4 separate regions of the Homo sapiens genome follow, and all the other regions are linked to region 1. The links come from fine-mapping of genetic effects on gene expression. A gene starts in region 1. Each other region holds a variant in brackets. All regions are shown on one strand. Distances are from middle to middle.

The links. PIP is the estimated chance that this variant, and not a neighbour inherited with it, causes the effect.
Region 2: its variant is the best candidate, but not a certain one, in a credible set for the expression of COPG2 in ovary (GTEx, PIP 0.87).
Region 3: its variant is the best candidate, but not a certain one, in a credible set for the expression of COPG2 in whole blood (TOPMed, PIP 0.70).
Region 4: its variant is the best candidate, but not a certain one, in a credible set for the expression of COPG2 in cerebellum (GTEx, PIP 0.52).

Annotation. Positions count from the first base shown.
Region 1 is chr7:130,664,395-130,672,557 of GRCh38, forward strand. It overlaps COPG2 (coat protein complex I subunit gamma 2), which reads right to left and starts at 4,354. Exons shown (of 24, transcript NM_012133.6): 1 at 4,238-4,354; 2 at 3,088-3,140; 3 at 2,455-2,535. The coding sequence starts at 4,274. TSGA13 (testis specific 13) reads right to left here. Exons shown (of 8, transcript NM_052933.4): 7 at 7,267-7,394; 8 at 4,249-4,789. The coding sequence ends at 4,620. RefSeq lists an enhancer at 3,557-3,666 and silencers at 3,937-4,526, 4,617-4,726.
Region 2 is chr7:130,499,831-130,507,993 of GRCh38, forward strand. MEST (mesoderm specific transcript) reads left to right here. Exons shown (of 12, transcript NM_002402.4): 7 at 45-85; 8 at 632-702; 9 at 959-1,060; 10 at 2,814-2,890; 11 at 4,103-4,166; 12 at 5,109-6,635. The coding sequence ends at 5,226. COPG2 (coat protein complex I subunit gamma 2) reads right to left here. Exons shown (of 24, transcript NM_012133.6): 22 at 7,855-7,993; 23 at 7,444-7,542; 24 at 6,408-6,976. The coding sequence ends at 6,846. Among named protein-coding and RNA genes, the nearest start is that of MIR335, 7.8 kb to the left of the region's middle. RefSeq lists an enhancer at 4,221-5,420. The variant T/C (reference allele first, on the strand shown) is at 3,749.
Region 3 is chr7:130,603,768-130,611,930 of GRCh38, forward strand. COPG2 (coat protein complex I subunit gamma 2) reads right to left here. Exons shown (of 24, transcript NM_012133.6): 9 at 7,186-7,343. Among named protein-coding and RNA genes, the nearest start is that of COPG2, 61 kb to the right of the region's middle. The variant C/T (reference allele first, on the strand shown) is at 4,257.
Region 4 is chr7:130,509,274-130,517,436 of GRCh38, forward strand. All of the region lies in intron 20 of COPG2 (coat protein complex I subunit gamma 2), which reads right to left. Among named protein-coding and RNA genes, the nearest start is that of MIR335, 17 kb to the left of the region's middle. The variant T/G (reference allele first, on the strand shown) is at 2,580.

The sequences.
Region 1 (8,163 bases):
TTATCTTTCTTTCACAACTATTTACTGAATACCCAGAAGTCTGTGTGCTTTTTAGTTATACAGGAAAACCTTACATCCTACTTTTTTACTTGAAACTCAGAAAACACATGGATATGTCAACTCTCATAGAAATTCAAAAGTATCTTTCTATAAAGCTCTACCAAGTTCTAGGCAAAGAGATAAAATTTATGTTCCCAAACCTGTTTATATAGTTAATTGTGTTTATGCTGTGCTTGGTAATTTCCTTATCAAGATAATTAAATGTTTCAACATGAGTTGCCTCATTGAAGAGGTAATGACCAACATAAAAATACATGTTACTCTCAATCAACTTTGACTATTCAAAACTTTTGTTTATACAATGGATTTGGCCAACTTAGACACAATGTGTGCTATGAAAAGTTAAACCCAATTGACTATGCTTTAAATGTTTCTCATATGCTGACACAGAGGGATTATGTTGTTTGTGAACAGATATATTTTATTTAAAACTATGTGTTTGATGATCAGGCACAGTAGCTCACACCTGTAATCCCAGGACTTTGGGAAGCTGAGGTGGGCGGATCACCTAAGGTCAGGAGTTTGAGACCCACCTGGCCAATATGGTGAAACCCCGTCTCTACTAAAAATATAAAAATTAGCCAGGCGTGGTGGTGCATGCCTGTAATCCCAGCTACTCAGGAGGCTAAAGTAGGAGAATTGCTTGAACCAGGGAGGTGGAGGTTGTAGTGAGCCGAGATTGCGCCACTGCACTCCAGCCTGGTAACAGAGCGAGACTCCATCTCAAAAAATAAAAAAAATCTATGTGCTTGTTGCTTAGTCTTCATTTGTAAACAAGAAAACTTTATTAAATCTCTGAGTGAGGTCTTCAGTCACAAAACAAAGTAAAGATAATATATTCTCTTAGAATTCAAATTGGAAACCATGGTTATCTTAGCACCATATGTAAACCACCTGAGGTATATGGTATATATGTATGTTTTATGTGTCCGTCTGTATGTGTATAGACATATATAGTCAGCCCTCCATAACCATGAGTTCTGAATCTGTGGATTCAACCAGGCTCAGATTGAAAATATTCAAGGAAAAAAAAAACTATGTTTGTACTGAACACGTACAGATGGTTTTTTGTCATTATTCCCTAAACAATACAGCACAACAACTATTTACACAGCACTAACATTGCACCAGGTATTGTAATCTAGAGATTATAGTCTAAGTATTATAATCACAGAGACAACTTATATATGGGAGGATATGTGTAGGTTATATGCAAATACTACACCATTTGTATGAGGGACTTGAGCATCTATGGACTTTAGTATCCAATGGAGGTCCTGGAACCAATTCCCCACTGATACTGAGGGAATATGAATCCATGAAACAAAATCATATTTTCTAAGGCCCTAGACATTTCATGAGTTTTTTTTAAGTCTGGGGCAAAAAAAAAAAAAAGAAAAAGAAAAGAAAAATTAATAACAACAGCAGCAAGCAGAATCTACATTTCATGAGCGCAAATATTTTTGCTGGTTTGTCTGCTATATCCCCAACACCTAAAACAGTGCACAGCACACAGCAGCTACGCAATAAATATTTGCTGAATGACGGAAGGAAAACTATTCCTGAATGCTTACTGTATGTTCAGGACTATTCTCAGTGCTTTACACTAATTATCTCATTTAGTCATTACAACTCTGTAACAGGTATTATCATAATCCCCATGTAGAGAAAAGGACATCAAGGCACATAAAATGGTTAAGCTACTGCCCAGAATTATTCTGCTAGTAATGGTAGCATAGGGATAATAAATATAAAATCTGAATATTAACAATCAAAGCTTTAAAACATCATTACACACATAAAAAAGAAAATATCTGGAATTTGCCTGATCTTGCACTGTATTTTCAGAAAAACATGAAGATCTCCAAATACATGTAAACAACATGCTCTAACTAGTACTCATTAAATTGAAACCAAAGGATTTATTGAGAATCTACTATGCGCATCACTGGTTTAGGATCTCATGAATAAAAAGGAAGTATAGGTTAAACATCTCTAATCTCAAAATCCAAAATCTGAAATGCTCCAAAATCAGAAATTTTTTGAGTGCCAATATAACACTCAGTGGAGACACTCATCAGAGCATTCTGGATTTCAGATACTCAGATTAGCAATAGTCAGTGAGTATGTATTCTGCAAATATTCCAAAATCCAAAAAAATCTGAAATCCAAAACACTTCTGGTTCCGAGCATTGCAAAGAAGGTATACTCAACCTGTATATGTCATAGTCCTCGTACTCAAGTTTTACATATTATTTTGTTAACCAAACGTTGTATATGTTAAAATTAAGTGAATTTAAAATAAATAAATATACTTTCCAGAAAGTATTTCACTGAATCTTCAGTATTTCTATTCCAGGACACACTTATCTGAGGAAAATAAAAATAATATACCTGGTTCAGTAAGTAAAGAATCTTTGTAAGAATATGCAAACATCTTCTTGGATTGATTGGAGTTTCATTGAATATACGAGCCTATGAAAAAACATAAAAAACATTGCTACTTTTCTACCTTTTCTATCACAGATTATAGCAAATCAACTTTAATACAGACTATTTTTAATCACGGTATCCAAAGAACATTGTCTATAGTTCTCAATTTACTAAGGTATCTGATAAATTATTACACGTGGCCTTGATTTTCCATCCTATACTTTCTCATTCCCTTAGGTTGACTACTTCAACTTTATGGGCTATACCAGTTAAATAAGGATCACAATACTTATCTATATCATACTAATACAATGAGATTAATACAGATAACTGATTTCAATAACCTTGCACTAAACACCTGTTCTTACATTTAAAATTCCCAACCTGTGACAGTCTTCATGTCTTTGCATTTCTATAAGCTCCAAATTCTCCTGTGACAAGTAACCCCTCTTTCTTTTCCCTCAAATCTATATTCCCTAAACTCTGTTACGTTTCTTGTTTTGCATGTCGTGATCACAGCAGCCCAGGGATTCTCTGCCCACCACTCTAAAACAGAATAGAAAAGAAAGGGCACAAGATACTTCCCAGTCATACCTCCTGTAAAACAGCACTCTTCTCCAGATGCTGGAAAGGATTGGAGCCACTACCTATTTATAAAACAAAACAAAAAAATGTCCTGAACAGCTGTTCTACACAAACTTATATACTTTCCAGAGAAGGGTACTGAATGCTTGGGAAGTGAACACTTGGATGGCACAGTGATAATCATGGCTAATACGCATACGAACTGAATGAAATCATTTTGATCCCGGCTCTGTCACTGCCATACTCGAAGAGCTGAGACTTCTCTTTCGCAGCAACCCTCTCCAAAATGAGTGTCTTCTTTCCCTGCCCTCTTTTTCCATGAATGTTAAAAATGTGTCATTTCCACAACAACGAAGATTAATGAGATTGTAGTAGGGTGCTTTTGATTTCCTTAGGTAAGCAGTATTTTATGTGTTTCTAACACTTAAGGAGAGGCAGAAACGAAGTTTCCCAGAGAATCATGCAGGCGTAAAGGTGCAAGAGGCCATGGAGGTTGACTAACCCAACCCCCTCTCACACTGTGGGAGATGCTACCAAACACTGAGAATTTTTTTCTTTTTGAGGATGCTTGGCATCTTCCCCATTTGCTCTGGACCAAAGACGGGCATCAAGACGCAGGTCACTTCTGGACACCTGAGCATTCAACGAGCTGTGTCCCACGGGACAGTCTTGCCCCCGGGGACCTGGACAGAGCCGGTGACCCCAGGAAAACGATAAGGTACCAGGCACCTGAACGTTCCTCCACACACACCCTGTGCCGTCGACCCCAGCCCCGGGAACAGGGTGCTCCCACTAGGGGTCCGACCCTACCAGCACCCCTGGACGCGGAGACGCGCGCACGCCCTCGGCCCCCGCCGGAGGCCCGCGCGCAGGGGAGGAGGCGGCTCGGAGGGGCTGCGCCGCAAGAGGGGCGGGAACGGGGCGCGCGCGGGCGCCGGGGCGGGAGCGCGCGGCCCGAAGGGAGGCTCCGGCGCCCGGGGGAGGGGCTACGGGCAGGCCCCGGGCAGCCGCGAGGGGAGGGGAGGGGCCGGCTCCAGCTCCGGCCCCCTGGCACGGCGGCGCCCACGCCCCCAGCCCCGCCGGCCTGAAAGCAGGTGGCGGCGGGCGGGGGAAGGGGCGTCCCGCGGCTGAGGGTGGGCCTCGGAAGCCCCGCGCGTACCAGACTCCTCGTCCTTCTTGTCGAATTTTTTAATCATCTTGGACGACTTCCCAGCGCCCAGACCCACCGCAACCGTCCCAGGCGCCGCAGCCGGCGAGCGGAAGAGGCTGCAGGAAGGCCGGCCCCGCGCTCTCACGCCGGTTGGGCCGCCGCGCCTTCACTCGGGGCCAAGGCCCGCCCTCCCCGGCCGCCCTCGGCCCCCGGGACGCAGCCACGCCCCCTTCTCCTCTTGCGGCCCGCCGGAGACTTCGGCTCGACCCTCCCGGCTTGCGACCCGGGAGCCCACGCCCGCAGCAGCAGGAATGTGGTTTTATTTGGGTGGCGACTTCTGCGGACCCCTCAGTCTCAAGAGAGCGAGGCGGGAGGACTGAGGGGTCTGTGTTCACCCGATGACCGTGGCCTTTTTGATAATCCACTGCGGGGCCCTCCCGTTGCGGAAGGCGCTCTCCCCGGGCGCGGTTCTGGTGGGCATGTCTTCCAAGAGCGATGCGAGTGTCAGTGGTTCCCGAATCACTTTGGAAATTGGCCTTTCACTCGCTGACTTCTTGGAAGCTACGACAAAGCACAGGCACCCTGGTGAATGTGGCTTTTCAGAAGTACTCGAAGGATACTTAATGTGAGATGTAAAGGAGACGCACTTGGAGGGACCAGAGGCTGGTCTTTAGAGGGTAGATTTTGGACCGTGTAATACCATTCCCAACCTATTTTATAATTTTTGGATTCCTTCATTTCATCAAAACCCAGTGGAAAATTCATTGCCAGTTTAGAGTCTTCCTTGTTCAAGCCTATTTCTTTCAATGATTCCATCTGAAACCATATTGACACTTAAGAAACTCACTAAATTAACGTGCATTCATTCCTAACTCATGTTCCTCTTTTTCTCAGAGTGTATGCTGGCTTTCTGTTCTCTTGTCTAAGAGTGTAGCTAAGAAACTTTGTCTGCCTTTGGCTTCACTGGCATAACTTGTTTAGAAATGTAAATTGGGTCTATACTCAACAGGATCGTGCCCCTGCAAAATTAGAGAAATTCTAACCTAGATTACATTCTACATCCTAGAGAAATTCTTTCCCTGAAATACAGATTTAAGATGAACTGTTGATATCCTACATATGGTATCATTTAAGATTTAACTCCGACTTGACTAAATGTACTATTAACTACTATGTTTGCTTTATATGGCTTGTAAAGGTCAAGTCATACTTTGTAGGTGGAGTTTTCTTTGAAGGAAATAGAAGTCTGCACTCATTTATTCTGGGGGTGAAAATAAACAGGCTTTGGGGAAGGAAACATCCTCTTCCTCTTCCTTGGCCCAAGGGTATTGGGAACCTAGGCAGAGACAGTGTAGATAATAGGCCCAGAGGTTCTCAAGGTGGGTAATGCCCCGGAGACCTGCTGAGAAGTAGAAGGACCTGAGTTCAGATTTGGGGCTGACCCTAAGACTAGCCCCTTGTAAAGCAAGATCAATCATTCTCTGCTGTTCTTCAGCTTTTCTGTATATCTATGAAGTTTTGTTTAATACCACAGGTTGTTTTTAGCTGTGCAGTATTTACGGAGTTAAGAGCATCAGTAGGTGGAAATGGGATGGGATGTGGTGGCAGATAGGTATAGCAGGAGCAGAGAAGCCTGAAGAAGCCAGTTAAGGGATGGTATAATATGACCCCAGGCCTTCGGTATCAGGACTATTTGGACTGAGGATGGCTGGCAGACGGGTTGAGCAATCACTGCAATGGCTTTGTGGGACAGGCAAGGATACCTTAGGGAGTCTCAGGAATTGTTTGAGGAGAGAAACCCAGTAGGAGAAATGGACCTTATCTTAAAACCATGAGCTGGTGAAGTCTGAGGACCCACCAATTATATATATCTAATACACAAATGTGTACTCAGTGCCCTGAAATTCTTCATTGGGTCCAAACTGCCTACTGGATAAAACCCAAACCTTTATTTAAATAATATTTAAGGCATTGTGGTATTTTCGATTTCTTGTTATTGTTGTTTGTTTGTTTTTCAGACAGGGTCTCACTCTGTTACCCAGGCTGGAGTGCAATGGCATAATCACAGCTAACTGCAACCTTGAACTCCTAGGTTCAAGCAATCCTCCTTCCTCAAGCCCCCCAAGTAGCTCAGACTACAGGTGCATGCCGCCACACCCTGTTAAATTTTTTTAAATTATTTTTTGTAGAGACAGGATCTCACTATGTTGCCCAGGCTAGTGTCAAGCCCCTGGCCTCCAGCAATCCTCCTGCCCCAGCCTCCCAAACTGCTAGGATTACGGACACGCCCAGCCTGTCAAGGCCTTTTATGATCTGTTTCATCTCTTTCACATATTGAAAGTGATATTGTTGGTGCTTGGTAAGTGTCAGACACTTAGTAGGAACCCTTGAAATACTGTTAAATAAATGATAATATGTGAGGAGGATTCTCATTGTACCCTCTGCCATACAACCTTATTCCAAGCCCCTTCTACCCCATTCCCTACCCCAATCCCAGAGACTTTTGTACCTCTAAGACACACAGACTTATCCTTTGGCCCTTTTAGAGCAGTTTTTTCTTCAAAGTATAATATGCATACCACTGGGTGGTTCTAGGTGGTACATAGATAAACATTTTAAAATTTCATTATTATAAATTTGATATAAGTGTTTCAGAAAAGCATATAATTTGTACATCAAAACCATGATATCAATGATATAGTATTAATTAGGACAAGATTTTTTAAAAATCCTTTTAAAAAATGCTAAGTAAATTAACAGCAAATAATACATCAATATGGCAAAAACTATTAAAGTGCTGGGTGATATAGCTTAGTAAACACTGCTAGAGCTTTCTTGAAATTTGAGGATTTAAACAGGGTCCAGAGCTTTGCACCTTTTGAGCCTCTATTTGTTGTTAACTTCCATGCTATAGGGAAAAATAGTCTCCAGGACTACCACGAGAGAAGCCAGTTTGCCACATCTATAATCCTCATGGATTGTATCTCCAGCCCAAATCTCAGTCCAGTAAGCCTTTGCTTTGAAAGAGAGGAGCTTACCATCTTTCCTCATATCTCTCTCATGGACTGGAGCAAAGGTGAGCTGAGGGTACATTTTCTTCTGTGTCCTCAAAGCGTAGACTTTTGAATACTTCCCTTCGCTCTTGAAATCATTGTCAGTGGAAAACCTTAACAAAGAAAGTTCTTTGTTTAGTAGATCCTAGGGCAGGGGGATTCATGGAACTATTCACTTTATTTTATTTTATTTTATTTTATTTTATTTTATTTTATTTTATGTATTTATTTTGAGACACAAGTCTTGTTCTGTCACCCAAGCTGGAGTGCAGTGGCATGATCTTGGTTCACTGCAACCTCTGCCTCCCAGGTTCAAGCGATTCTCCTGCCTCAGCCTCCCAAGTAGCTGGGATTACAGGCACTTGCCACCACGCCTGGCTAATTTTTGTATTTTTAGTAGAGACGGTTTTCACCATGTTGGCCAGGCTGGTCTCGAACTCCTGAGCTCAAGTGATCTGCCCACCTTGGCCTCCTGAAGTGCTGGGATTACAGGCATGAGACACCGCGCCCAGCCCCACCATTCACTTTAAAGTTGGCTACATTCTCAGAGAAGACAAGACAATGATAGGAGCCTGTTGATTGGTGCCAAGTAGGAATATTGTTCCGTGACAAGGGATGCTTCTGAACTTAACACTGTAAACCTTTGGAGGAACTCCAGAATCTCTTCTGTCCTCTCTAAACTACACATAGGCTGCTCTTGTAAGTAGTTTCACATAAAACCTCTTTTGTCTAATGTGTTCTCATAGCACATGGTTCCTGTGATATAGCGCCTAACTTGTATTGAGGGTACTTTTTTTTTTTTCCTGTTTCTTCAAAGCACAGACCTTGGAATATTTCCCCTCAATCTTGAAACCATTGCCAGTGCAAAACCTTAGTTTTGCA
Region 2 (8,163 bases), 160 kb before region 1:
AATTAAAGCTGTAGGTAAATGACTAAGATAAGTCTCTTCTACAGGTATCTTTCCTGAGACTCACCGTCCACTCCTTCTCCAAAAGGTTGGTACTTCACTGATAGACCTTTAGTTTTAGGATTTGTACTGACGTAAATAATGCTGGGACCTTTTAAGGGCCATAGCTCCTGTAACTGGCAGTAGTTAAATCCTCTTCCTTGTGAATTTCTATTAATGAAGTTACTTTTTCCCTTCTTAGGCAACTAAAGCAGAGGCAGTGGCCCCTACGTAAACCCAAAACCAATCCTAAGAATAAGAGATCAACAAATATTTGGAGAAATTACAGCTATGGAAAGATCTGTGTCACAAGCTTGATGTTTGAACAAATTAGGATCCTACTCTAAACTTGAATATATCAGAGTTAAAGTTTTAGGGATTTAGTGAATTGTAGAAAAGTAATCTTAGATGGAATTAGAAATAGATTTGTCTTCCTTGAGAGAAGAATGCGGGTAGGCAAAACAAAATGCCAAGTACCAAACCATTCAGTAGCAGGAGATTTGGCTAAAGATTTAGTTCCTAGTATAAAACCTTTTGCCCCGGTGAGGATCTTCCTCTGGGTTCTTGAGCTTTACCTCCACTTATTCCCCTCCAGCTACTCAAAGATGGAGGTGTGCTGTCACCCATCCTCACACGACTGATGAACTTCTTTGTATTCTCTCGAGGGTAAGTGTCACTGTCAAAGATTGTGGCCTAGAGCAATGTCGTGAAAAGTTGCTGCCATTACAATTCTGGGCCAAATCCTAAGGCTTGATATTTTAAAGCAAAGGTGTTGGCCGCTTGCCAGGGAAGTAGAAGGAATTCATAAATCACTTATGGGTCAGACTGCATGGCCCAGACTGCATGGCCTCTGAGGTTCCAGCCATATTGAACATTCTGAGTTCTCCTCACACTTATCTTCCTGCGTTTTGGACTCTTTCAGTCTCACCCCAGTCTTTGGGCCGTATACTCGGCCCTCTGAGAGTGAGCTGTGGGACATGTGGGCAGGGATCCGCAACAATGACGGGAACTTAGTCATTGACAGGTAAGAAGTTACCCTTTGCTTTGGTTTCCAGAGACGTGTTTTTGTGGAGAGTGGGGATTGCTTGTTCTGTTCCTTGCTGGCTTATTCCCTATCACAGGAAGGCTGATGATGACCTATGGGGCAAACCAAAAAGTCATGGTCTATATGAAGAAAGAAATAGAAAATAAGAGTGAAACTGGACTCTTTGTTAGTATTAAATGCTTCAAAGTATTGAATCATGGTTGTGAAAGTAGCCTAGTGCCTCCCTCAAGGTACAAGGCTCTTCCTTTTGCCTATCTTTCTGCAGCAACGGGGAGTGAGAGGGCAGACTTCTCTTTCTCTGTCTTGTACAAAGAATTCCCATGCCTTGGTTCAAATGAGAATGTAGACACTTTCACAAGGGACCCAGAGGTGGTGATAGCTGTAACTACTTGGGATAAGACTCTGACTTCTAGCCACCTGGCTCAGTGTAGCTTCCAGTGTTTTTACTGATGGCTTTGCTGGGGATTGTATGTTAGAGGGAGCCAATCCTCCCACCCTCTCCTAAGCCCCAACAGGATCCCTGAATATTTCATTTTAGTATTAAAAAACTGAAGAACAATTAAGACTGTCTTTTAAAATTATATTTTCCTTTCCAAAAAGTAAATACTATTTGTAAGATGAGATATTTGAGGTTCACAAAAATAACTGTCCTGGAGTTGCCAGGCAGAATGAGTAGAATACATGAGTTTGAGTTCTAAAATGTGGCAGTGGTGTCTTACGCTGGAGAAAGAGGAATCCTCTCCATTTTATCTGTGGTCAGATGAAGCTTTGTGCTCATCAACATCTACACTTAGAATTTTGAAGTAGATGTCGGCTGGGCACAGTGGCTCACGCCTGTAATTTGAGCACTTTGGGAGGCCAAGGTGGGCGAATCATATGAGGTCAGGAGTTTAGAGACCAGCCTGGCCAACATGATGAAACCCCGTGTCTACTAAAAATACAAAAATTAGCCAGTAATTCCAGCTACTCAGGAGGCTGAGGCACAAGAATTGCTTGAGCCCAGGAAGCGGAGGTTGCAGTGAACTGAGATCATGCCACTGCACTTCAGCCTGGGCACAGAGTGAGACTCCGTCTCAAAAAAAAAAAAAGAAAAAAAAAAAGAAGTAGATGTCAACACAGAAGATCATGTGTTACAATCCTCTTATTTTAAAAATGAGGAGGCTAGCCAGGTCCTTTGGCACATGCCTGTACTCCCAGCTACTTGGGAGGCTGGGGTGGGAGGATCTCTTGAGGTCAGAAGTTATAGCTGTAGTGAGCTATGATTGCACCTGTGACTAGCCACTGCACTCCAGCCTAGGTAACATAGGGAGACCCTGTCTTTTAAAAAACAAACCAACAAATGAGGAAACCGAGTTGAAAGATCTGTGTTATATGTTTGAGTCAGAGAGGTAGGTAGTGGTGGAGCCTAAATTGGAACCTCAGACCTGGGCTTTTTAGTTACATAAAATCCAAACCAACTGTCAGCCTTCCTAGATCTCATTCCCTGCTTAATAAATACACAAACCCACTAATTCTTATATTGATAGTAGGCATAATCACTACTAGAGCTACATGGTGGTTAACTCTAGAGGTTAACAGAAATGGATAAATTAAGTGGGACATTTCCAGGAATGCTAAACTGCTTCTGGATTAAGAAATTGTATCTTGTGTTCCTTGTGGCTCGTTATGCCCTTGAATCCCTGTAACAGTAAAGGTTTCTTGTTCTGCACATGCTGACTTACCTGTCCTACAGTCTCTTACAGTACATCAATCAGAGGAAGAAGTTCAGAAGGCGCTGGGTGGGAGCTCTTGCCTCTGTAACTATCCCCAGTGAGTATTTTTGTATTATTGATAGGAAACTGAAGGACTATAGGGTTAAAGTAATCGCAACTCCTTTATACAATTAGGGTTACCAGATTTAGCAAATAAAAATATAAGATACCCAGTTAAATTTGAATTTTAGATAAACAACAAATGCTTTTTTAGTATTTAAGTATATGTTGTACAATATTTGGGACCTACTTACACCAAAAAAAAATCATTTTTCACCTGAAATTCAAATTTTCTGGGTATCCTTTATTTTACTGGCAACTGTACTCATGACATCTGGAACAGTGATGTGTGTGTGTAGAGTGAAGTATATAAAAAGCTGAGACATTACTGTAAAGGTAGTTGGTATTACTGATTTCTGTGGTGTGCATTGTCAGTGACTGCCACATTACATGCTGAATTGCTCGGACAGAAGGCTGTTTGGATTACTAATCAAGAGGCTATAGGTGGTTTGTGCTTATTTGTCTTTTCATTCTTACAGATTTAAAAAAAAATTATGGTGTTTCACACATAGTGATTAGTGCTCAGGAAATTATTGGTTGATTTCAAATGTCAAGGGTCTGTTATAACTGAAGAGAGACTTAAAGAATGATAGTATCCTGGACTTAGAGGATGTTGAAAGTTGGGCATATCCCATTTGGTCCAGGGTGCAGGAGAGCTGGATGAGGGACCAAATGGTTGTCTGTAGGAGGAGATGTGTCCAATGAATGAACTGGTACGTGCCTAGCAGTTTTTTAGAGGTTACCTAATAAAACAAGCTAGGTTTTGTATCACACAAAAAATTATTTATAGAAAATATTTTCTTGGGCTGGGTGAGGATGCTCACGTCTGTAATCCTAGCTTTTTGGGAGGCTGAGG[T/C]GGGAGGACTGGTTGAGCCCAGGAGTTTGGCACCACTCTGGGCAACATAGTGAGAAAAATTTTTCTCTACAGATAATTTAAAAGTTAGCCAAGTGTGGTGTTGCACACCTGTATGTAGTCTCAGCTACTGAGGACACTGAGGTGGGAGGATCGCTTGGGCCAACGAGTTTGAGGTTACAGTGAGCTATGACTGCACCACTGCACTCCAGCCTGAGCAAGGGAGAGAGAGACCTTGCCTATTATAATAAAAAAAGGAAGAAGAAAACATTTCTTTTCGGAGAGGAGTTAATTTTAGGGTGGGAGTAGAACAGATGTGAGAGCTGTTAAGTATTTCATTCCTTTTCTCTTTTCTAGTTCATTTTATCTATGGGCCATTGGATCCTGTAAATCCCTATCCAGAGTTTTTGGAGCTGTACAGGTGAGTCTCCCCGAGAGAAGTCTATGTTTTGTTAGTATCTCATCCTGACAGTGGTAAACAGAATTGCCTGTTGAGGGCTATTGGCTCTAGCCATTGTCTTTAACCTCGCTGGCTGTTCATCCAGGAAACAATAAAAAGATTGAGTTGAGGAATCTTATTCTAACATAATTGTAGTATCAAGACATTCAGTTATACGTTCTCTTGATTTATACATAGTCTGTTTTCACTGTCATGACTGCTACATATTCCTTGGTGTACAAAAAGCTCTCATGTGAGTCAAAGGTTGAAAGTGGATATACCTACAAAGTGTTTGTTTGTTTTAGTCTGATTGTAAAGCCAATTCATTGGTTTAGGCTGAGCAGATGGCAAGGAGAGATTGAGAAGAGCTCATTGTGGAAAAGTGCCTTCTCATTGGTTGCTATTCTCTCTAGGTACTTACTTGGAAGGTATCAGAATATGAAATCTTGATTATGTCACATAAGAATGTTCCATACCTTCCTGTGGCCTACTGGATACAAGCTAGTAGTAAACAGCTTGCATATAATTTTAAATAAAATACCCCCTCTCTCATCTCCTCCTGGGATTAAGGGAAGATCCTTGGTTATCTCTGCTTGGGCAGTGAGTTGCTGTGTGATCCACTTGTTTGATGCTTCATCCTTCTCTAAGGAGCTGAAAGTCATCTTGCTTTGACAATTGTTGCAAAAGTGTTATATTTTCAAGTTGTTGTTTGTTGGATTATGAACATTTAAAAACTAGTTTGTATAAATGGAATTGGCAAGTTTATCTGCCTAAGATACAATTTCAGAGTAGAAGGTGAATAAGCTCTTTGGTGGCTCCTTCCAGTGTGGTGTGTCCACAGGGTCATTTACTGGGGCTTCCCACTGGCTTACATCCCTCCCGCTCCAGCCTCAAGTTCACCTGCGTGCTGTTCTCTTCCACTAGGAAAACGCTGCCGCGGTCCACAGTGTCGATTCTGGATGACCACATTAGCCACTATCCACAGCTAGAGGATCCCATGGGCTTCTTGAATGCATATATGGGCTTCATCAACTCCTTCTGAGCTGGAAAGAGTAGCTTCCCTGTATTACCTCCCCTACTCCCTTATGTGTTGTGTATTCCACTTAGGAAGAAATGCCCAAAAGAGGTCCTGGCCATCAAACATAATTCTCTCACAAAGTCCACTTTACTCAAATTGGTGAACAGTGTATAGGAAGAAGCCAGCAGGAGCTCTGACTAAGGTTGACATAATAGTCCACCTCCCATTACTTTGATATCTGATCAAATGTATAGACTTGGCTTTGTTTTTTGTGCTATTAGGAAATTCTGATGAGCATTACTATTCACTGATGCAGAAAGACGTTCTTTTGCATAAAAGACTTTTTTTTAACACTTTGGACTTCTCTGAAATATTTAGAAGTGCTAATTTCTGGCCCACCCCCAACAGGAATTCTATAGTAAGGAGGAGGAGAAGGGGGGCTCCTTCCCTCTCCTCGAATGACGTTATGGGCACATGCCTTTTAAAAGTTCTTTAAGCAACACAGAGCTGAGTCCTCTTTGTCATACCTTTGGATTTAGTGTTTCATCAGCTGTTTTTAGTTATAAACATTTTGTTAAAATAGATATTGGTTTAAATGATACAGTATTTTAGGTATGATTTAAGACTATGATTTACCTATACATTATATATATTTTATAAAGATACTAAACCAGCATACCCTTACTCTGCCAGAGTAGTGAAGCTAATTAAACACATTTGGTTTCTGAATAAATTGAACTAAATCCAAACTATTTCCTAAAATCACAGGACATTAAGGACCAATAGCATCTGTGCCAGAGATGTACTGTTATTAGCTGGGAAGACCAATTCTAACAGCAAATAACAGTCTGAGACTCCTCATACCTCAGTGGTTAGAAGCATGTCTCTCTTGAGCTACAGTAGAGGGGAAGGGATTGTTGTGTAGTCAAGTCACCATGCTGAATGTACACTGATTCCTTTATGATGACTGCTTAACTCCCCACTGCCTGTCCCAGAGAGGCTTTCCAATGTAGCTCAGTAATTCCTGTTACTTTACAGACAGGAAAGTTCCAGAAACTTTAAGAACAAACTCTGAAAGACCTATGAGCAAATGGTGCTGAATACTTTTTTTTTAAAGCCACATTTCATTGTCTTAGTCAAAGCAGGATTATTAAGTGATTATTTAAAATTCGTTTTTTTAAATTAGCAACTTCAAGTATAACAACTTTGAAACTGGAATAAGTGTTTATTTTCTATTAATAAAAATGAATTGTGACAAAAGTGGACTCTGGCTTCCCCTCCCCCCTCCCCCCCACCCCTCTGGGATAAAAATTTTCCAGCATTGCCAGGAGCTTTCAGGTACACATTAAAGAATAAAATGAAGTTAAGCAGCTGGAGTATAGGATAGTATTTGATTTTCAAGATCACCCAAAGCTGCACTATCGTCCCAAAGCTGACCAAGTAGAATAAAAAGAAAAAAAAAAAAAAACAACCCATGCGCAAAGATAGACATTTGCTTGATCTGCTGGCTCAGGGCCAAATGTTTAATTTGCTTCTCCAAAGTCATTCATCTTCAAAAGTCTGATTCTGGGAAACTGATGCCACTAGCCTAAAAGCCCACTGACCATGTAGTGTGCATCAGTTTCCTCTTGTCCAGTAAGCATTTATCCAACAGAAGCTAAGATAACATCTACAGGTGTTCTCTCTTTACTTCTGACAGTCACCTGCATGGTCACTCCATCGGCTAAGGCCAGCCTGGACCTCACCAATAAATCATAGCCACCTCTGAATATACCTGAGAGAAAAAAGTAAGGAAAACCATATTAAGAACCCAAAACAAGCACTGGATAATGAAATTTATCATGCTATCCCTGCATCTCCTTTCTATTAGTTTAGTTTAGCTTTTCCAGAGACTTGTGGAAACTGAATCCTAAACAAACATAAATTCCAAATATATATATTTTTATATTCCCATGAAACCAGGTACATAGAAGGTATTCAAAAATACCAATTTGGAGTACTCAAAAGGAATGTTGGTGGTGGCCTTGGTATCTGTTGGAGAGATTTGTTTTGGGCCAAATGTACATCTTAAAAGAATAACCAAGAATAGCATGCAAAACAAATTATTCATTTTGACTGGGTATCAAATTGTTACTCATATAATGGGATGATGGGACAACAGCAAGGCATAAGATGCCCATCTATATCCTATTATTAAGCTTTGCAAGAAAATGGAAGGAAAATCTGATGGAAGCTTCTTACCTGCCAGATAGAGCGAATGGGAATTCTTGTTCTCAGGTACTTTATCGGACCTCTCACATGGCTGCATGCCCAGAAATGTGATGATATTGTTGACAGCCTCTGTGTTGAGAAGATGTATGAGACAGTATTAGGAAAGTAAAGCACAGGGATCTCCCTCTGCACCAGTGTATGCTGGGAGCTGGGGTGGAAGGGTTTGTTGGTGAAGGGGGTTGTTGGTGATGTGTAGAGGGAGGCTACTACTGGACTAGAAAATGGCTGATCAATTAGATGATGAAGACAGGGTGCTGGCCTTTTAAGTAAGAGATTTATGAAGTTTTTTTTTTTTTAAAGGAGTTCTTCTGGAGTAACAAATATGCCTGTTAGGTGTTATACTGTTATCAGGCAATATACTGATAGCAAAATGGGTCTCACCTTCAAGGGTTTTGGTAGAACTGAGGGCAAAGGTTTCCTCTTTCTCAAAGGTATCTCCCACCTCTTCCCAAGCAGCAGCAAAGTTAGGCTTCAGTACTTTCTGAATATGGTCAGACACAGTCACTTCGAGATCTTCCAGCTAGTGGGTAATAAGCAGTCAGTAAAGAAAAGTCCTTTCTGTTATAGGGCAAAGATAAAGGAACTAGTCAATATGGTCCTCCGGAGCCTAGAGAAAACTCTACCACCAAAATAGTTTAAGTTCTGTAGTCTGGATAAATCTAATGTTGTAGCCCTTAGCAAAGGAAAGCA
Region 3 (8,163 bases), 61 kb before region 1:
AGTACTATAGGCATCTTGTACAGTTGATCCTCGAACAACATGGGGTTAACAGTGCCAACCCCCATGTAGCTGCAAATTCACATGTAACTTTTGACTCCCCCAAAATATCACTAATAACCTACTATTAATCATCTTGTTGATAACAAAAATAGTTCATTAACACGTTTTATGTTATATGTAATATATATTGTATTCTTACAATAAAGTAAGCTAGAGAAAAGAAAATATTAAGAAAATCATAAGGAAGAGAAGATATAACTATTCATTAAGTGAAAGTGGATCATCATAAAGGTCTTCATCCTCATCATCTTACATTGAGTAGGCTGGGGTGGAAGAGGAGGTCTTGATGTCTCAAGGGTGGCAGAGGTGGAAGAAAATCCATGTGTAAGTGGACCCATGCAGTTCAAACCCATGTTGTTCAAGGATCAACTGTATGTCTTTTAACACACAAATGTAGGCATTTCTGTTTGGTTATTTATAAGAAGCCAATTGGGATTGTAATTAGGGGTTTGTGGAATCCATAGGTCAATTTAAGAAGATGTATCTTTACAATATTGAATATTCCATAAATGTTATATGCCTCATTTACTTAGGTCATACTTTAATATTGTGTAATTTTCTGTGTAGAGATATACACAAATTTTAGTAGATACATTCCCAAGGATTTGATTTCAATATAATTATAAATTGTACCATTTTTACAAAATTTTATCTTTTTGATGGGTTGCTGGAATAAGAAATAAAATGACTTCGGATATTGACCAGCAACACTGGTAAATTTACATATGAGCTCTAATAGATAATGTACAGTTTATTTTGCATTTCCTATATATATAGCCATATTATCTCCAAATATAGTGTTACGTCCTCCTTTCAAATTTTTAGGTATTTTATTTTCTTCACTTATTGCACAAAGTAAGCCTTCTAGCAAAATACTATTTAAAAAATAAAAATAGCAGGCATTTTTGTCTGTCTCATTCACAATCTCTAGGGGAAAGCTTTTAATAGTCCACCAATAAGTATAAAGTTTAGTGGAGTTTTTTTGTACTGTTGTCAGAATAATCATGTTCCCTTCCAGTCCTGGTGGCAGAGATTTCAATCATGAATTGCCATTAAATTTTATCAACCGCTTTTTTCTGCACCCATTAAGGCATTAAGACTCTTCTGTATTTTTAAAATGAGGTATATTATGCTATGTTTTACTGTTAGATCAACCTTATACTACTAGAATAAACCCATACTGGGAAATATTTGGTCATTATTTCTTCATATATCTTTTTTGCTCCATTCTATCACCTTTGCTTCCAGATTCCAATTACATATGTGTTAGGCCACTTGATCTTATCCCACAGTTCTTCGAGGCTCTTTATTTTCTTTAATCTGTTTTCTCTCTGTTCTTCAAACTAGCTACTTTCTCCTGCTCTATCTTCAAATTCACTAACTCTCTTTGACTCTCTCATCAGCCATCTCTAATCTGCTGTTAAGTCCATTCAGCAAATTATCTGATTCAGTTATTGCACTTGCTGGGGCAGAATGGCTCCCCAAAGATGTCTATGTCTTCATTCCTAGAACTGATGAATATGTTACGTTACAACATGGCAAAGGAACTGTGCTGATATAATTAAGATTGTCACCTAAATTACCCAGGTAGGTGCAATCTAATCACATGAGCACTTTAAAGCAGATGTGCTGAAAGAGGAGGCAGAAGAAATGTGGCAGAAAGGCAAATCAGAGAGATTCAAAGTGCAGCTCAACACACTATTGCTGGCTCTGACACGTATGAATCAACATGCAAGGGACTCAAAGAGAGGCCTTTAGTTGCTCATTGAAAGCATGAGAAGGAATACAGGCAACCTCTAGAGGCACAGACTAACCTCCAGCTGAAAGCCAGCAAGGAAACAGAGACCTACAACCTACAGTCTCAAGGAAATGAATTTGGCCAACGACTTAAATGAGATTGGAAGTGGATTCTTCCTCAAAGCCTCCAGTAAGCAACAGCACTCCACCAACATCTTCACTTTAGCCCCATGAGGCCTGTGTCAGACTTCTAATCTACAGATCTGAGATAATAAATGGATCTTGTTGTAAGCCATTACATTTAATGGTAATTTGTTATGGCAACAATAAAAAAAACTAACAGATTTTGGTACCTGTAAGTGAAGTGTTACTGCGACAAATACCTCAAATTGTAGAACTGACTGGAATTAGGCACTGGGTGGAAGCTTGGAAGAATTTTGAGGAGCATGATGGAGGAAGCCTAGTTTTGAAGAGACTTATAAGAAATCTGATCTTAAATGATCCACCCACCTCAGCTTCCCAAAGTGCTGGGATGCCTATAGTTCCAGCTACTCAAGAGGCTGAGGCATATGAATGGCTTGAACCCAGGAAGCGGAGGTTGTAGTGAGCTGAGACTGTGCCACTGTACTCCAGCCTGGGCAGCAGAGCAAGACTTTAAAATAAATAAAAAAAAGAAAGAGAGAGAGAGAGAGAGAAAGAAAGAGAAAGAGAAAGAAAAAGAAAGAGAGAGAGAAAGAAAAGAAAGAAAGAGAAAAGAAAGAGAAAGAAGGAAGGAAGAAGGAAGGAAGGAAGGAGAAAGAAAGATCAATCGATCTGGTTCTTAAGGACACTGCTGGTCAGGGCTTATGAACTGCCTACAGAAATTTGGACTTAAAAGATGCTGTAGTGAGGGCTCAGAAGGAAGTAAAAAACACATTAATGTAAACTTGAGTAAGGTAGATCCTTGTTATTATGTATTGGCAGAGAGCTTAGTGAATTTGTGCCCTGTAGTTATTTGTGAAGCAGAACTTGTAAACGATGAAGTTGGATATTTACTTGAGGAAAATTCCAAAAATGAAGATGTGACCCAGTTTTATCTTGCTGTTTACAGTAAAATGTGAAATGACAAATTTCACCTACGGAGAGCAACTTTGGCCTGTGCCCCTGAGTTCCAGCCTCCCTGCAATCTTCCCTTCCTGACAGCCTATCCTATGAATTTTAGATTTGCTTAGCTGGCCCCCGAATTACATAATCAATAAACAAATCTCTACATATTTATATCCTCCAGGTTCTACTTCTCTGGTTGAATCCTGACAGAGTATTTTTAAGCTCTAGAATTTCTACTTAGCTCTTTTTGTCGTTTCCATTTCCCCTGTTCATTCATGGTAACTATTTTCCATTAAAGTCATGGACAAGGCTGGCTGTGGTGGTGCACACCTATAATACCAGCACTTTGGGAGGCTGAGGCAGATTGATTGCTTGAGCTCAGGAGTTTGAGACCGGCCTGGGCAACACTGCGGAACCCCATCTCTACAAAAAGTACAAAAATTAGCCAGGTGTGGTGGTGCATCCCTGTAGTCCCAGCTACTTGGGAGGCTGAGGTGAGAGGATTGCTTGAACGTGGAAGGCAGAGGTTGCAGTGAGCCAGGATCACGCCACTGCAGTCCAGGCTTCACAACAGAGTGAGAGAGACTGTCATAAATAAATAAATAAATAAATAAATAAATAAATAAATAAATAAAGTCATGGACAAATTTATAATAGATGCTACAAAGTTTTTGTTTGCTAATTCCAATGTCTGGATCATATCAGGGTTAGTTTCTATTGATTGCTTTTTCTCTTGGCTACTAGTCACATTTTCCAAATTCTTTGTACTTCTGGCAATTTTTACCATCTATTAAACATTGTAATGATATACTGTAAAGACTCTAGAACTCATGGAGTTTCTTTAGCAAGAAGCTTGGCTGGGATCAAACTCCAAACTTTATTTCCTCCATAGTGAGTTGCAGCTGAATTCTCCATTCAATTCTTTTATCTTACAACTACTGCTTTTGGCAGGTCTCCTAGAGTATTCTCCTGTATATATGTAGTTCAGTTGGTCAGCCAGTGATTTTTGTAGAGTTTAAAATTCATTTTGAGACTCATTCCTTTTATGGCTCCCTCTTTTCCAGGTTTTCCACTCTAAGTTTTCAGTTACTCTTCCAACCTCAAACTGTTTTGACCACTCTGTCCAGAAATACTGTAGCTTTCTGTCATCCTACACTGAGGAATTACAGAATGCCCTCAGGAGAATAGCAAAAAAACCCCACAAATTTCACCCAGTATAGCTTTTGTCTTTCAGGCATCAACTGCTTCCCTCCAGTTTTTGCTTGCTTTTCACCACTCCCCAATATTTTCATACTGTTGTGGGTTATCTTCATTTTGGGAAGGTATAGCTTTGTACTAATGTCAATTATTATTTGCAGGAGGATTAAGCTGGC[C/T]AAGCTACACCATTATTGGAAGGAGGAAGCTCAACTGAATATTTTTAAATATTCCATTTTATCTTCTCTGTTGACATTTAAGATCTATATGTTTTACAAAGATTTTTTTGTTAGTTATAATATTCATCCTCAAGAGATTACAATATTCATCCTTATCACAGTGTATCATCAAATAATATACTACTGCATGATACAAAAACTTTACAAATGTCCATTTTTCTCCCTCATGCCCTTTATACTACTATTTTCATATATTTCACTTCTACATATATATAAGCCCCATAATTTGCTGCTGGTTTTAGTAAAAATTGTATATATTTATAATTTACCTACATATTTACCTTTTAATTTACCTACACATTTACCCTTTCTCTTGTCCTTCATTCCTCCTGAAGATCCTGGCATCCATCTACTATCATTTCTTTTTAGCTGGAAAAACTCCTTTTAGCATCCTTCATGATGCAGGTATGCAGACACAAATCCTTTCGGGTTTTTGTTTTTTCCTGGTTGAAAATGTTTTAATTTCACCTTCATTTGGAAGAATACTTTTAGAGTATAGAACTCCAGATTTTCAGTTATTTGTTTCAACAATTTTAAGATGTCCATTATCCTCTCGTATCCATTTTTCTAATGAGAAGTCAACGATTCTTATTTTTGTTTCCCTGAATCTAATGAATCTAATTTGTCTTTTTTTTAAAAAAAGGCGACTTTCAAGCTTTTCTTTCATTCTTTCTCTTTTGGTTTTCAACTTTTTACTTGTAATATATATGACTAGGTTATGATTAGGTGTGGTTTTTATTTATCCTACTTGAGTGTCACTGGCCATCTTGGATTCATTTTGGGTTTGTTGTTGTTATTTTTTGAGATGGGGATCTCACTCTGTCACCCGGGTTGGAGTGCAGTGGTGTCATCTCAGGTCACTGTAACCTCTGCCTCCCAGCCTCCCATGCTCAACCGATCCTCCCACCTCAGCCTCCTGAGTAGCTGGGACCACAGGCCTGCGTCACCATGCCTGGCTAATTTTTGTATTTTCTTCTGATAGAGATGGGGTTTTGTCATGTTGCCCAGGCTTGTCTTGAACTCCTGAGCTCAAGCGATTCACCTGCCTCAGCCTCCCAAAGTGCTAGGATTACAGCCATGAGCCACCGCACCCAGCCCCTTTCATTCATTTTGGAAAATTCTCATCCATTGATATGGTTTGCCTGTGTCCCCACCCAAATCTCATCTTGAATTTCCATGTGTTATGGGAGGGACCAAGTGGGAGGTAATTGAATCATGGGGGCAAGTGTTTCCCATGCTGTTCTCATGACAGTAAGTCTCATGAGATCTGATGGTTTTAAAAATGGGAGTTTCCCTGCACAAGCGCTCTCTCTCTTTGCCTGCTGCCATCCATTCAAGACGTGACTTGTTCCTCCTTGCCTTCCACCATGATTGTGAGGCTTCCCCAGCCACGTGGAATTGTAAGTCCATTAAACTTCTTCCTTTTGTAAATTGCCCAGTCTCGGGTATGTCTTTATCAGCAGCATGAAAATGGACTAACATATCCATTATCTCTTCAAAGATTTATTCTATTCCATTCTGTTTCCTTTCCTTCTGAGACTCATTACACAAGTATTAGACTTTTTGATATATTCCCTAGGCTTCAGATGTTCTATTCTTTTATTTTCTTTTCTTATTTTTCTCCCTATGCTTCAGTTTGGACAATTTCTATTGACTTGTCTTTAAGTTCTCTAATCTTTTTTCCACTGTGTCCAATCTGCTATTAAGTGCTTCAAATAAATTTTTATTTTTGATATTGTATTTTTTGGTTCAAGATTTTTTTTCTAGTTTCTATTTATCTATTGAATTCCTTACCCATTTACACATTTTGTCCATCTTTTCCACTCTTTAGTGGAAAGATGTAATTTACAAAAGTTACAAAAGTTCACTTTACAAAACTCCTTTGGTGTTCACTTTAGAGAAGTTGTTTAAAAGTCACTGCCTAGTAATTTCTAAAGTCACTGCCTCCTAATTTCTATATGTGGGTCATCTGTAAGTCAGCTTCTACTGACTATTTTTTTCCCTCTTGTTTATGGGTTACATGTCACTGCCTCTGTATTTTTTGATTGTTTGCTAGACACTGCTTATAAAGGTGCAGTAGACACTGATGTAACTAATACTTATCATTAGAAAAGTGCAGGTCCTTTTTCATTTTTAGCAGCTAATAGTTGATCTGGGTCAGGACTTTGCTGCAGCTTTAATTAAATTCAGTTATCTGCTGTTTACAAATGATCTGAGGAACAGATCAGGTTTCCCCTTTCAGCAGGGCATTAGTAGTAGTGGCAGATTCTAGAGATCTTTCTCTGTGTTACACCTCAGTTTGCCAGGCCACATAAGAAATCTTTGTTTTAGAGCTCAGCCATAAGCCTTCAGGCTGGGGAAGGGGTCTTCTTTGCTCCCTAGATCCATGCCCAGCTTACTATACCTCAAAAGATTTCTCATTCCTGCCCTTCCCTAGCCTTCGAAAGACTGCTAAAGTATATTTGGTCACATCTTATGTGCCTCAGACTTGTGGAATGATCTTAGGCAAATCACTAAATGCAGTACTTCAACATTCTCTTTTATAAAAATAAAAGGGATAGGATAATTCTTAATGTCCCTGCCAACTTTCATATTTAATTATCTATATATCTTATGATCAATGCATATATTTTTTGTTCAATATCAGTTTGTTAATGTGCTATTAATAATTAAGTACATATACAAGAGCATACAGTAAGGTTAAAAAAAGTGTGACTTGAAATTCCATAATTTTTTTAAAAAATTGAAAAACATTGAACTCATCTGTAAAGTTAGCACTGCCCCAAAAAAAATTCAAAAAGGAAATAAACTCTAAGGTATATTAACTTCGCAAATGGAAAATAACCCAGGTTTAGGTGAAGACACTTACCCATCCTCAGTTTCTTTTAGTAAGCGACTGGCAATTCGGATCAGCATGCAGTAAGCAAACTGTGACTTGAGACCAGATTTAGTAAACTTATTCAACATCTTGGAAACAGCAAGTCGATCATTCTTTCTAAGGTGATACAGGACTCCCAATGCATGGTACTAAAGAACATGAAAAAGAAGGTAGCACATGGATTAGAAAGATGTCAAAATATTTACACAAAAATAGAATTACACGGAACTAGATTAAAGATTTCTTTAAAATACCCAGGTCACATGTACACAAATATTTTTTTCACACTGAACTAAACACAGGCAAGACTGAAAAGATTAAACGTTTCTAATTTACCCCTAGAAGCTGTCAATTCAGACTGGCAGGCATAAAGGAGGTGACATACAACCTGAAGATGGCTCTAGCAGGCTCAACACTGGCTCACACATCCTCAGTACACACGCTCTCGGGTCCAGGGCTTTACTGGTGCTATCTGTCTCTACGAGTGGCTTTACATCATCTGTGGCCATCTTAGTAATTAAAGGATTAATCTCCTAAAGCAGGCTACAAGAGTGTCATCATCTTGACACTTTGTATAAAAACACATGATCAGAGTCAGGAGAATGAGAGTGTTTCCCAAGGGAAAAATGACTACTCTGTTTCCTAATAACTGAATATGTTACCATAGAAGTTATAAACATCAAGAGGGCATAAACGCCCTCTCAAATAAAATGGGGTACTTTACACACAATTTCCAGTGAAGAATTTAATCTTATTCCTCTTAAGAATAACCTAATAAATATCAAAAGAGCTCTTTTTGACAAAATGGTTTCAAAGTTTCATAAAGTAAAAGCTGCTCCGTATGATTTTTATAATGCCTATAATCAAGGCCTCAGAACTTGGAATTATCTTTTTACACAAATTATTTTTCAAATAAAAGACTGCCACGAGCATCTCAATCTACTACTGAATATAACAATCTTTCCCAAA
Region 4 (8,163 bases), 160 kb before region 1:
TCACACAAGTGGTGTTAAGTAATAAGAAATGGAGGTGGGGGTACATTTTTGGAAAGTGAAGTCTTTATAAAAAGTAAAGACAGTATTTTCTGAAATGTTTGAAGGAGGGGATTTAGCAAGCAGGGATGAAGAAAAGGCATTTAGGATCTTGTCTATGGTCTGGAAAAAGCTTATAGGTACAAAAAATATTAGATATTGGGAGAGTTAAAAAGTTATTTGGGGGATAGGCAAGGAGAGGAAAGAACAGGCTCAGATGTGAAGACCATATACGACAGATTGGGTAATAAGACTTTCATCTGCTCAGTCTTGACTTTAAATTCCATCCATTCATCCATCCACACATGTAGTGACTGTCAATACATGTTGACATTACACGTAAAGGTATAAGCTTATGTGCCAGACACTTGGATAAAAAGATGACTGAGACATGATCTCTGTCTCTAGGAGCTGTCTAGGAGTTAAATAAGTGTGTGGGCTGTGTGTGTGTGTGATCTATCTATGACTTTACAACTCAATGCCATAGATCCTTTAAGTTTTAAGAGAGTGCCATGTGAGGGTGCGGGATTAACAAATAGCCTGGGAAAACTGTAAAAAATGTGAAACGATATAATAGTTTAACTGGCTCTCAAAAGATGCAAAAGAGCTTTGGCAAGCAGAGGAAGATGTACAAACAGGCAAAAGGAAAGAGGCCAGAAAGTCCACCGGGCAGCTGGAAACAGTAAGAGGCATGCTAATGCCTAGGTGCTGAGAAGATAATTTGTTTAGGAATAAATTGTAAAATACCTTGTATTTCAAATGATTTTCCAACAGGCTCTGGTGAGCTGAGGCAGTCAAGAGATTGAAAGGTTAGAGATAAGCTAGATAAGGTGCCTAATTTAAGCCACTGGTGGGGACTATGAAGAATGGGTCTGAATTCAGAGAGCAGATGGATTCAACAGAATATGCTGAAAACAGACGATGGCAGTGGGTTTTCCCATATAGGAAAGAATGAACCTATCAAGCCTGCAGAATCAATTTCAATGCCATTAGGGGTTGAGAAAAGAACGACTGTGGTTTAATTAGGATAGGATTTTCTTCAGAGAGAAGGGGAAAGAAGTGAAAGTTAACACAAGGCCAGAACAGGTCAGGTGAGGCATTTTTTTTAAACCATGAAAGAGATACAGAATATGGTAGGGGAAAAGGTCATGATCAAGTTAGAATGAAGAGTCAGGAGAGACATTAATTATAGCAACCCAGTGTGGTTCCAATTAAGCAGAGAGGCTACAGCAAATGAGGAGGACAAAGAGACAACATCAGGTATGAAGGCAGATCACAGACTGGGCACAGGGGCTGAGTTTTATGTGGAGGTAAAGACAGAAGACACTTACATATAAGGACCTGATACAGAGAAAGAGATTAAGGAAGTAAATAGGAATGGTGTTAGTAGAGATAATGTTCCTGAAACCTTAGTGGGAATTTTTTTACTTAAATGGTTTGATTGATACAATGAGAGGTTACAGGGATCTAAGGAAGTCTAGGCAGTAATCTGTCGAAGCTGCTGGAGAGGATGACGAAATGGGGCGAGGAGGCAAGATGCGGGGGCCTTTCCATGGCAAGAAAATACTGAATGCACTGCCATAATGTAAATATGAGAGTTACACAGACAAAGCAAGGCAAATACCAAAGAGAATCAGGAAAGAATGCCCTGAAGATCTGCATTAAAACTGTTCTCTGAAATTAAGCTTGTCTTGTGAGGATTCACTGAAAATGAGAGTCAACCACTAAGGAGATTTGTATGAAAAGAACCCAGCGAATTAGAGAAAAGATAGATGCTGGCAGCTAAGACAGGAGAGGGACATGTGAGTTGGGCCAGGGTACAGAAAATGCAGTGTGGCAAAGGGCAGAGTGGGAAAGGTGGGAGGGAGCTGCCAGGTCTCAACCACCTGGGGGAGACCATGACAAAGTAAGAGACACTTATGAGGTATTTCCAGAAAGCTTTGTTAGAATAATAATTAAAGAAAAGGGTATGTCACTAGGGCAAAAGATTAGAAAGAAGGCAAAAGAGATGGATCTGTACAGGCTAACTGCAGCAGTCTATGCAGGTCTGGACTGAACTGAGAAGCAATGGGTGCAGCATAGTGTGTAGGACATCGAGGAAAGCTGGGCAGTGAGTGCCAAAATAAGCAATACACACCTACCTGGAAAATCGTGTTGAGTCTGTGGGAATGCTGTACAAATGGTGGGAGGGAGTTTTTCTCTAGGACAAATTCAGAAAGGGAAGGAGGAATGGTACTGGAAAGCAACATTAGAGTTGTCCTCAGATGAAAAGGAGTTGGTCACTAAGGAATGACACACATCAACAGGAAGGTAAGACAGCATTGCTGGGCCAAAAGTCATAAGAGAGTATGAAATAAGAGACTGGAAGCAAAGGAAAGAAAATATTACATAAGGAAGGGCCTACTGGCAGAGCAGGTGTGGAATAAAGATTTAGAATGGGGTATCCTGTCTAGGTCTAAATGGTCGGCTGCATGGGAAATACACAGAAAGGGTTAAGGAGCAAGGAATTCAGTAGGAGGCAGCAGCAGACTAGCTCTTAAAGC[T/G]TTTGAGGGAATGGCTAATTAAAGGACTTGCTTGATAGGAAAGTTATAAACTGATGAATGCTGATAAAAAGCTATAGATGGGCCGGGTGCAGTGGCTCACGCCTGTAATCCCAGCACTTTGGGAGGCTGAGGCAGGTGGATCACCTGAGGTTGGGAGTTCAAGACTAGCCTGGCCAACATGGTGAAACACTGTGTCTTCTAAAAAAAAAAAAAAAAAAAAAAAAATACAAAATTAGCCGGGCGTGGTGGCCCATGCTTGTAATCCCAGCTACTTGGGAGGCTGAGGTAGGAGAATCACTTGAACCCAGGAGGCAGAGGTTGTGGTAAGCCGAGTTGGTGAGCCTTGTTAACTCTCCTTGTTAATACACAACTCTCCTTGTTAATATACAACTCTGACAATTTAACATGAGCCAAGCCCCATTGCACTCCAGCCTGGGCAACAAGAGCAAAACTCCATCTAAAAAAAAAAAACAAAAAACAACAAAAAAGCTATAGATGGCAACTTTAGAAATATTAGGCTTGATTTATTAAGAGAGTGTGAACATGTAGTTTGTCCAGAGAATGGATTATTGCTACTAGATGGGGAATGGGTGATTATGAAGAGTGAAGTAAAAAAGTCTATATCTATTTCTGTAGAGATGGTAAGGCCGGGTGCAGTGGCTCACACTTGTAATTCCAGCATTTTGGGAGGCTGAGGCTGGCAGATCACTTGAGGTCAGGAGTTTGAGACCAGCCTGGCCAAGATGGTGAAACCCCGTCTCTACTAAAAATTTTTGTAAAAATACAAAAATTAGCTGGGCGTAGTGGCACATGCCTGTAATCCTGGAGGTTTCAGTGAGCCAAAATCACGCCACTGCACTCTAACCTGGGTGACAGAGTGAGTTTCCGTCTCAAAAAAAGAAAAAAGAGAGAGATGGCAAGTGAAAGGATGACTGACAGTTAAGATATCGTAGACTATTGCACAGTGTTCCACTGAAGTTGCCTAGAAGTTACTCTGCTATGTGAGGATTGGCTAAAAGTGACAGACATTTCCTAGGGAAACATGAATGAAAATATCACAGGGGAAGAGAAAGAGAAGATGGAGGCTGGAAGCTAAAAGATGAAAAGATGTAGGATTTAGGCTGGAGTGTGGAATATAAAGTGTGGGTAGGGGCTGGGCACGGTGGCTCATGCCTGTAATCCCAGCACTTCAGGGGACTGAGACAGGTGGATCATTTGAGGTCAGGAGTTTGATACCAGCCTCGCCAACATGGTGAAACCCCATCTCTACTAAAAATGCAAAAAGTAGCTGGGCGTGGTGGCAGGTGCCTGTGATCCCAGCTACTTGGGAGGCTGAGGCAGTAGAATCACTTGAGCCCGGGAGGTGGAGGATGCAGTGAGCCGAGATCAGGCCACACTGCACTCCAGCCTGGGTGACAAGAGTGAAATAATTCTGTCTAAAAAAAAAAAAAAAAAAATATATATATATATATATATATATATATATATATGTGTGTGTGTGTGTGTGTATATATATATATATATGTGTGTGTGTGTGTATATATATATATACACATATACATATATATGTATGGGTAGGGAAGGGCATTAAAGAGGGCCAGAATGAGGAACACCAGAAGATGGCAGAGCTGCATATGCAGTAGAGAGATGTGAGTTAAGCTGGGTTACAACCAAAGAAGGAAAGAGAATACAAAGAGTAAGTAGATAAATAAGAACTGGTGTCATGAGGAAGTGCCATCTGGGAATCTTTGCTTGAATGATGTTTGAAGCAACAAGTGTGACCAATAGAGTGAAAGGTCAAGGAGTTTAAATGGAATGGATTCTTGCCATAGGCAGTGGCAGGAACCCTATGAAGGTCTGGAATGAACTGAAAGTGCAAGTGTTTTCAGAGTAGTGTGGAGGTGACGAGGAAGAAAAGACTAAATTCATGAGAATGATACACAAGATGATAGCTGAAAAAACAAGTGACTAACAGTTGTTCTACTAGGGTCAACTGGGGAAAATAGTGGAAGAGCCTGCAGAAGAGACGGAGTCATTTGAAGATTGGCAGGTATTGACTGGAGGGATACGGCCCCATAAGTGTAAGATTAAATAAGGAGAGACTGGAAACTGTGTAAAGGGAGAACTATACAAAGAGTAGGTAAGCGTAGGTGGAGTGGCATGGACAGGTAAAATGAGGAAAGTGTTTCCCAGAATGGGAAATCTTGTAAACCCTTAAAAAATGTGGGTTTATTCAGTCAAATGTTGGCTCTTAATTGCAGACTTTGAAAAGCAGTAGATACAATGGAAGAAGAACAAGTGCTTGAAAAGTAATGCGAAGCTTTTGTGAGAAGTTTAATGAGAAGGATTAGAAGGAGATGGATTAAGATGAGCCCTAATAGGGCAGCACTTAAAGACACCAGGATAGATCTTTGAGTAGTTTGTAGAATGGATGACTAATATTGGAAGAGGAGTGGCTGGAGATCATGTTGGAAACCCATCTCAAGGGTGAAACTTCTTTGTTTCCAGGTACAGATGGTAGATGAAATTTTACTCTATATAATTAAGGGAGGGCAAATCACCAAAGGGGAGAAACAAATGAATATCATGTAAGTGCGGTATTAAAGTTACTCTTAGAAGTTACTCTGTCATGTGAAGATTTTCTACAGATGAGAGACAGACACTAGAGAGAATTTGGCTAGGAAGTGCCATTCAGGAGGAGACAGAGTCCATCTGAATGAAATATGGACAGCAGCTAAAAGAAGGGAGGCTGAAGATAAGGTAGCGTACATCTTTAGGGCAAGATAGGTAACAAGGAGAAAAGGAATAGGAGAAAACATTAAAGTTGACTCCAGATGAAAAGGTCATTTGAAGAATGGCAGGACTGACTGGAGAGACAGTCCCATATTTGGGCCAAAAGACATGAAGAGGGGTTAAAGCTAAGGGGAGCATTAAATAAACTAGATAATGATTCTGAAAAGGTGGCGTGGTAATAAGAAAGACCACAGCGCCATAAAGATGCCTGGAGAATCCTGCCAGATCTCAGAATGGGCCCAACTGGCCAAATTCAGTGGGTGTAAGGCCAGATTGCAGTGACTAGTATATGGGAGAGAAGGAAAGACCTGAATAGGAATGAGTCAGTAGACTCGCTCTTGATGCCTTAGTGGGAGATTTTTAATTAAAGGGCTTGGTTGAGGGAGAAGTTGAAGAGCAATGCTTCTTAGAATGTGTTACATGGCACTATCTAGGAATCTGTTAGAAATATGAATTCTTTTCCCCTCCCCCAGACCTAGTCAGTCAGAAACTCAGGGTGCATTAATCTGTTCTCACATTGCTATAAAGAAATACCTGGGACTGGGTAACTTATAAAGAAAAGAAGTCTAATTGGCTCAAGGTTCCACAGGCTGTACAGGAAGCATGGCTGAGGAAGCCTCAGGAAACTTACAATCATGGCGGCAGGTGAATGGTGGGGAGCCAGCACTTCACAGGAGAAAGATAGAGAGTGGGAGGAGGTACCACACACTGAAAACAGTCAGGTCGTGTAAGAACTCTATCACAAGAACAGCACCAAGGGGATGGTGCTAAACCATTTATGAGAAACTGGCCTCATGACCCAGTCACCTCCCACTAGGCCCTACCTCCAACACTGGGGATGACAGTTCGACATGAGATTTGAGTAGGGATACAGATCCAAACCACATCCTGGGGTAAGGCCCTGCAGCTTGTTTTAACCAGCTGCAGTTGGAGAACCACTGCTTTAGACAAAGGCAGGCTAGGAACAATTCTGATAAAGAGCCTCTGCTAGCAACTGTTGTGTTAGGGTCAGCTGAAAATTAAAAGAAGCAACTGAAGAGACTTGAATGAAAGGAGAGGAGAGATGGAGAGAATGGAGGTGATGGAGGGTACAAAAGGGAAGGGATAAATGAATGAGGCTGGAGGCTGAACTTGCAGCACAGTAAGCAGGCCAGTGAGGAAGGGCACTGAAGCATGACAGGATGAGGAATACTGGGACAGGGAGAGTAGCAACTCTGGTAGAGTGATTTTATGTTAATCCAGTCACAGCCACTCAAGTAGACAGAGGAAGGAGAGAACGTGGCTAGGTAAGAATTGAGGTTATGAGGGGTCACTGTTCAGGAAGCTGTGGATCTCAGATCCAGTGTGCAGTCTGAACAGTGAGTGTTGAGTGTGAGGGGTCTGTTTATCCAAAAGACAGTACTGAATCTATGGAACTGACATACACAGTCTCTGAATGAAGGAGGGATACTGAATATAGTTTTTATAAGGCAAAATAAAAAGGTGTACAATAGTGAAGTTAAAATTGCTTCCAGACGAGAAGGCATCACTTAGTATTGACCAAAAAAAGTGTCAATGATACTAACTGGAGGTATTTGGCACCATACTTGGGCGAAAGGTCATGATGGAAAATAAAGAAGCCAGGTTAGATGCTATCTAAGGGGAAGGGAAGGCTTATCTGAAGAGTAGAAAACTGGTTTTGAATGAGGGAGACAGTGGGGATATGAGGGGAGGAAACCTCAAAAAGAATATGTATCCATCACTATGAAAGGTTAGGCTATACAGGGGAAGCCTCCAAAGGGAAATCTGGAAAAATGTTCTGAGAGGGACATTAAGGATGTACTCAGAAATTAAGAAAACATATTAGGACTTGCCAAAAGTGAGAGAAGCAACTGAGGAGACTTATATGCAAAAATCGCAAAGAAGGAGAGAACAAAAGATGGAGGTTGGATGCTAAATAGGGAAAGAGAACGTGTGAATGAGGTAGGGGGCAGAACATGCAGTGCAGAAAAACAACAGATATGGAAGGGCATTAAAGAGGGCTAAATGGGAATATTAGGAAATGAGAGTTGGGAATTTGTCAGAGTTGTGTATTAACAAGGAGAGAGTAAGGTAAGAAGGTGGCAAAGTAAGAGCCAGGGCATAAGGTTTTGCTGTCCAGGAAGCTTTGTTGGAAAAATGTTAGAAGTAATGGGTTTGGTCAGTATGGTGAGAGGTGAGAGAGGCTAAATGGGATGGGCATAAAGGGCAGGCCAGTGGCAAGAATCCTATGAAAGTGTAGGCAGATCTGAGAGCACAGACAAATACAGTGGAGAATGTGGCACAGGGCAGAGGGCAGTGGGCTGAGCAGCGAGTGCCCATGGGGAGGGGAGTATCCAGAAGAACCCATTGAGTCCCTAAGAATGACACACAGGTGACAGCTGAAAGAAGGAGGGACACAGAAGATATAGCAGCATGATTCTCTGGGGCAAAATGAGGAAGAAAGGAATGGAAGAAGAAAGTGAAGGGTTCCTGCTGATGTGAGGGGATGACTGGAGGAAAGGCAGGTATTGACTGGGGGGTAAAGGAACCATTCTTGGATCAAGGTTATGATGGAATAAGAAGGAAGAGAGAGCTGGCTAGCTGAGTAAAGGACCATCGTATAAAACAGACAAAAGTTAAGACTAGATGGAGTGGCAACTAGGCAGATCAGATGTATTTTTAAAAGGGGAAACTGCTAAGATCTCAAAATGGGCCCAAGTGGTCAAATTGGGTGGGAAGGCCCAATGGTAATGAATGGTGCATCTAACAGAGCTTCGGGGACCCAGGCAGA